Linked DNA regions of Homo sapiens. The protein of the gene in region 1 purifies or fractionates together with the protein of each later gene. This does not show direct contact. Each region holds a gene or a part of one and is shown on either strand. Other genes may lie near its edges.

Evidence for each region. The genes of interacting proteins can lie anywhere in the genome.
Region 2: the proteins of ALDH1L2 (region 1) and TTC5 purify together in Homo sapiens (affinity purification with mass spectrometry, with the first as the bait; one large-scale study listed by BioGRID). This does not show direct contact.

What each region holds. Positions count from the first base shown.
Region 1 is NC_000012.12:105,049,959-105,053,458, reverse strand, and holds part of ALDH1L2 (mitochondrial 10-formyltetrahydrofolate dehydrogenase precursor), read left to right. Parts: intron 1-527; coding exon 528-647; intron 648-1,241; coding exon 1,242-1,369; intron 1,370-2,748; coding exon of another isoform or gene 2,749-2,767; exon of another isoform or gene 2,768-2,970; intron 2,971-3,400; coding exon 3,401-3,500. UniProt on the Homo sapiens protein: Mitochondrial 10-formyltetrahydrofolate dehydrogenase that catalyzes the NADP(+)-dependent conversion of 10-formyltetrahydrofolate to tetrahydrofolate and carbon dioxide.
Region 2 is NC_000014.9:20,285,727-20,288,951, reverse strand, and holds the end of TTC5 (tetratricopeptide repeat protein 5), read left to right. Parts: 3' UTR 1-2,725; downstream 2,726-3,225. UniProt on the Homo sapiens protein: Cofactor involved in the regulation of various cellular mechanisms such as actin regulation, autophagy, chromatin regulation and DNA repair.

The DNA.
Region 1 (3,500 bases):
AGCCTCATCAAAGTTCATTGACTAACCTCAATTTGCTTGCCAGCCACTGGCAGAGAGTACAATTTACGCAACACATGTGTAACAGACAAAAAGTGAAAACAGAGAGGAACTTAAGGAAAGCAAACTTAAAATGGCACCAGTGTAAAAGGAAACCTATTGACAAAGGCATTTTCAATGATTTCAATGAAGGCAACAGCTGCGCTCCACCAATGCTGCCACTAGATGGTGGTGTTTCCATTATCTAGAGGTCTTGTGAGTTACCTTTTATCTGTTAAGAAAGAAAATCTGAAATCTGTATAAAGCCTGGCCTAGAGCACTTCTGTCTTCACAGCTTCTACCCTCCTGCCCCAGTGGCCAAGGCAAGCATCTTGAGGCCCAAATCTCACATATGCATGTCTTCTGTACAGTCGGAACTAGAATGTCATTGACTTCTCCCTCTGCATTCGTGAATATGCTTCTTTATTGCTGTTTGACATCAAATTGGTAAACACGGAAATCCATTGAATCTATTAATATACTTCTCTCAGATTTCAAAGGAGGTCAATGAAATCATGGTAAAAATGCCATACCAGTGTTTCATAAATGGACAGTTCACAGATGCAGACGATGGAAAGACTTACGACACTATCAACCCAACAGATGGATCTGTGAGTAATTCTTTAGTGTGAGTAGTGATCACTGGTCATGGATTTTTAGTTAATACACCATTGTAAAAGAGGCAGTCTTAAGAAGCCCTTTTATTCTCTCACTCTGCCTCTAAGTACTTCACACAAATGTACTTCATGCTTTTCTTTCAATGACTCAATTCTGGTACCAGCTGCTATTAACTGTAGTAACCTATTTTATAGAACATTTATGATAAATTTAGACAGGTAGCTTTACCTATACACACCAGAGGCACTCATCTGCATAGAGATATATGTGAAAAAACTTTCCAGACTTTGAAGACTCATGGCAAGAAATTCAGCTTTCCTAAAGCACTGGAAGAACTACAGTCTTCCAATCTTCCTAAATGTGTTCTTCCATAAAGTAGTATGATATGAGAAGTACTAAATTTCTGGTTCACAATTTTCATATTAAAATTGTTCTTTTTCTTTACTGTAGTACTAGATATACTCATTTCTTATCATAACTTTTTTTAAAATCAGTAATACTCTATTTTTTCTATTAATACAATATTAATTCCAAGAACCATATTTTCATATCTCTCATGGGGCCTATTTTTACTTACCTTGAAATAGACAATATGCAAAGTATCCTACGCTTCTTTGGCGGATGTTGATAAAGCAGTAGCAGCAGCAAAAGATGCTTTTGAAAACGGTGAATGGGGAAGAATGAATGCAAGAGAAAGAGGAAGATTGATGTATAGGTATTTCTATTTTTTATTTTTTTATTTTTTAGAAAAGTAACTCTGGTAGAGACAGGGGTTCACTACGTTGGCCAGGCTGGTCTCAAATTCCTGACCTCAGGTGATTCACCTGCCTCAGCCTCCCAAAGTGCTGGGATTACAGGCGTGAGTGGTGGCACGTGCCTGTAGTCCCAGCAACTCAGGAAGCTGAGGCAGAAGAATTGCTTGAACCTAGGAGGTGGAGGGTGTAGTGAGCCGAGAGTGCACCACTGCACTCCAGCCTGTGCTAGAAAGCAAGACTCTGTCTCAAAAAAAAAAAGGAAAAAAAAGAAGCAAAACAAAGTGAGTCTACTACCTTTGGATATTGGCTAACATTGCCAAGATTTTAAAAATTCCTGCAAAACATTCTAGTATTCACCTAATATGAAATATGTCTTCTGTTACTTGACTCATATTAAATCCTATATATGTTGATTATGTTAGTATTGCTTGCATCAGGCAGGTCCCAGCTGGAAAAGAAGTTTAATAAAGAACTGTTCACAAAGACGTGGCCGAGGTCAAAGAAATCCAATAAAGGATACTGAAACATCCAGGCAGGGCTAGCAGCAGGGGGAAGCTGCTATGTCAAGGTCTGAAGGGACAGGGGAAGGAGCTGTTACTGGAATCTGGCAAGATCTGTAGCTATACGAGAAAACCACACTGCAGTGGAGGGACATGGCAGCTTCTGAACCACAGCCTATCAGCGAGGGAGCCAGGGAATCCAACTCCCCAGCCACTTTTTCCTTCAGTTCACCAATATTCTGCGGGTGCCTCCCAGTGGTCTCTCACTGGCCAAGCCCAATGGGAGAGCAAGGGAGCCAGGTGATGTAATCTATAAAGGTCATTCACCAGGGTCAAGGTCACAGAGCAGGGTGGAGAATGGATACAGAGAGCGGCAAGTGGAGAATATCCAGTACCCTGTTGTTTTAAAAAAACATTTTATATCCACTTGATGTGTAAGGAATAGGAACAAGGAAGAAAAATAATAAGGACTGGGAAGAATATTATAAATCAGTAATGAAGGATGCCAGGAGTGATTAGATTCAATCATAAATTCCATTTGCTGTTTACCTAAAATCCAATATCGGACCTAGATCAATAGATCTCCTAGAGCAATGATATGATTTGGCTGTGTCCCCACCCAAATCTCATCTTGAATTGTAGCTCCCATAATTCCCATGTGTCATGGGAGGGACCCAGTGGGAGGTCACTGAATCATGGGGGCAAGTCTTTCCTGTGCTGTTCTCATGAAAGTATATAAGTCTCATGAGATTTGATGGTTTTATAAAGGGCAGTTCCCCTGCACATGCTCTTGCCTCTTTCCTTTATAAATTACCCAGTCTCAGGTATGTCTTTATTAGCAGCATGAGAATGAACTAATACAAGCAAGATCTGGAACAAAGATTGTCGGAGGGGGATTTCAAGCTGGACTCTAGAGTGGCCCCAAAGGAACAGCTCAGAGAACCACTACAAATACAGAAGAAAAATAAATAGAGAAGTTGAACACAAAAGATGAGTCTTACCGTATCATAGTCATTATACAGTCCTGCACTTACCTTCCCATAAAACTTGTGAACACCAAACAGAAATCTGTTGCAGTGTTTGTAATTCATTGTGTACGTTGCTATCTTGTCTCTTCAGTTAGTTTTGGAAATATTTTTGTGCCAACTGGAAATCCTCAAATGTTCATGGGTTCTCAGAAGTGTGGGTTCTGGGAATGTGGTTCCAATGACTGGTACTGGCTCAGTCATTGTTCTACTTCTTACACATAGATGAGGCAAGTTATATATGCTTCCAATACCCTCTGCTTCTCCTTTGTAATTCTTGAAACAAATGATTTATGAAAATATTTGTTTAATGTCTTTCTTGCCTACTGGACCATGATCTCTATAAGGGCAGAGATCTGATCCATATGTGTTTACCTCTGAATTCTCCGTCCTTAGGATACTGCATTATATGTGACAGGAGCTCAATCAATACTTGTTGAATTTATTTCTTTCACTGACCACACAGACTTGCAGACCTACTGGAAGAGAACCAAGAAGAGCTGGCAACTATTGAAGCCCTTGATTCAGGGGCTGTCTATACCTTGGCCCTGAAGACACACATTGGA
Region 2 (3,225 bases), on another chromosome or scaffold:
TGCTAGAGACCAGCTTTCTTCCATTTTCCCATTCTGTCATTCCCTAGGGGTGGTCTTCACTATGGTCCAAGATGACAGAGCAATACTGTTCTAATAGTGTTACTAGGCTGAAGGACCAGAGAGAGTTAGATAAATCCTCAGTTTCTTTAGAGTCTAGTGACATGTTTTATAACAGTTTATCTTAATATCCTTGTGGTAAAATGGAGAAATGTGAGTGAGGATTAATAACCAATTGAATTGGCCTGGCACGGTGGCTCAGCCTGTAATCCCACCACTTTGGGAGTCCAAGGCGGGTGGATCACGAGGTCAGGAGTTCAAGATCAGCCTGGCCAAGATGGTGAAACTCCGTCTCTACTAAAAATACAAAAATTAGCTGGGCGTGGTGGCAGGCACCTGTAATCACAGCTACTGGGGAGGCTGAGGCAGAGAATTGCTTGAACCTGGGAAGTGGAGGTTGCAGTGAGCCGATATCATGCCACTGCACTCCAGCATGGGCGACAGAGCGAGACTCCGTCTCAAACAGCAACAACAACTGAATGGCTGTAATACATTAATGTATACAGATGAATTGAGAAGTCTTCTAGTGAAATGGCTCAGATCTTTGTTCTTGGTCCAGTCCTGTTCAGTTTTTGATCAGTGCCTTGAATATCATTGATGACTCATTAAATTTATAAAGAGTGCAGAGGCCTCCTCAGAGAATGGATGGTAGAAATGCATTGATGAGAGAAGTTTTATCTATCTATCTGTCTATCTATCTATCTATCTATCTGTCTCTATCTAAGAAGTCATAAAGGCTGAGTCTAATAAGATAAAATTTTCAGTCCATTCTTTTGGTCCAAAAAGGCTTACATTCTCAGGTATAGCTTCAACATCATATATGAATATTACTAAGAATCTTAGTAGATAAGCTAAAGTCAGTATGAGTAACCAGTCTGATATAGTTTGCAAGAACACTCTTCATGGACTGCACCAAAAAAACCTATGGTAGCAAGAGACAGTTTTTATTAGAAGTACTGTCTGTTATACCACATATGGAGTCTTAAATTAGTTTTGGGTGTCATTTTGAGGCCTAGAGTCATAGAAGAGTGATTAGGAGCTTGTGGGGTATAAAAATAACTTGAGAATTGGCTGAAAGCAACTAGGGAAGATGGGGGTAGTAGTATGTGTAAACATTTGAGGCAGTAGAGATGTGGGACCCAAATACTGTTCCCCTTTTACTCAAATTCTGAGATGAGTTGACATGTTCTGTGTAGGGCTAGAGAGTAGAAAAATGGCCAGTAGGTGGTAGCCACAGAGAAGCAGTGCGTACAAACAAGTAAGTATGCAAAATTTGTACATACGGTTTCAGGAATAACTAGAATACCCATAAAATATCCACCTGCCTTAAAAACTAGAACATCATTGATAACTTGGAAGCCCTTGCATACCTCTCCATGATCTCATTTGTCTTCACAGCTATATAAATCTCATTGTATGATTATACCATAATTTATTCATCCTGTTGTTAAAGGATATTTGGGTTTCCAGTTTTTCTTTTTTTACTACCAAAGCACTACATTATTAATATTCTTGTATATGTCCTGATATGTAAGTGCAAAAGTTTCTTTTACAGCAATGGCTCTTGAAGAGTGGTTCCCAGACCAGCAGCATCAGCATCCCTTGGAACTTCTTTGAAATGCAAATTCTCAAGCCCCCTACCCAGACTTACTGAATTCAAAACTATGTGGGAGGAGCCCAGCAATCTGTGTTTCGCAAACCCTCCAGGTGACTCTGATGCACAGTAAAATTTGAGAACCACTGTTTAAGAGTATTGACATAGAATGGAATTGCTGGATCATAGAGTATATACATGTTCAACTTTTTTGAGAAGCACTAAACATTTCCAAAGTGCTTATATTAGTTTATGTCTCTACTATCAATAGATGAGTCACCCCAATGCTCCCCATCCTCTTCTGTGCTTGGTATTATCTTTTAGGTATTGCAAATACAGGAGATTTGAGTATTATTTCCTTGTGGCCTTAATTTGCATTTCTGATTATTAATGAGCTTGAGCATCTTTTCATATATTTAGAAGCCACTAATATTTTCTCTCGGTAAAATGCCTATTCGAGTCTTTGCACACTGCTGTATTGGATGTCAAATTGATTTATATATTCCCTGTACTAATCGTTTGTCTACATACAGTTTTATCCTGTTTTTTTTTTTATTCTATTGGGTCTTTTGCTGAACAGAAGTTCTTAATTTCAATGTCATTGAATTTATCCATCTTTTATGATAATGCTTTTTGTGTTTTAAGAGGTTCTTAGCTCTCCTAAAGTCATAAGGACATTTTCCCTCTACTGCTTTATGAAGTTATTTTGTCCTTTTCTTACAGTATGACTTTATTTTATGTTATGTACGGATATAATTTTTTTCATAATGAGTAAATAGCCCAGCACCTTTTATTAAAGAATCAATCCTTTCCCTACTGATCTTTAAAGCCCAGTCTGTCTTTTTCTTTTTTTGAAATTGTCTAGCTTTTTAATTTTTACCAACCAGATGATTATAAAATATCACATAGTAGGCATAAATTACATTTCTTTGTCCATTCCTGTTTCTTTTTCTATGAAATCTCTGTTTTCTTTTGTCCAATTTTTATTGGGTTGTCTTCTTATTGATTCCTTACATGTTCTGGATACTAATCCATTATAAATTATGTTTTTCAAATATATTTATCCAAATCGCAGCTTGCTTTTTCATTTTCTTAATGCTCTCTCTTTTTTTTATTATTATTATACTTTAAGTTTTAGGGTACATGTGCACAACGTGCAGGTTTGTTACATATGTATACATGTGCCATGTTGGTGTGCTGCACCCATTAACTCATCATTTAGCATTAGGTATATCTCCTAATGCTATCCCTCCCCCCTCCCCCCACCCCACAACAGTTCCCCGAGTGTGGTATTCCCCTTCCTGTGTCCATGCGTTCTCATTGTTCAATTCCCACCTATGAGTGAGAAAATGTGGTGTTTGGTTTTTTTGTCCTTGCGATAGTTTGCTGAGAATGATGGTTTCCAGCTTCATCCATGTCCCTACAAAGGACATGAACTCATCATTTTTATGGCTGCATAGTATTCCATGGTGTATATGTGCCACATTTTCTTAATCCAGTCTATCATTGTTGGACATTTGGGTTGGTTCCAAGTCTTTGCTATTGCGAACAGTGCTGCAATAAACATACGTGTG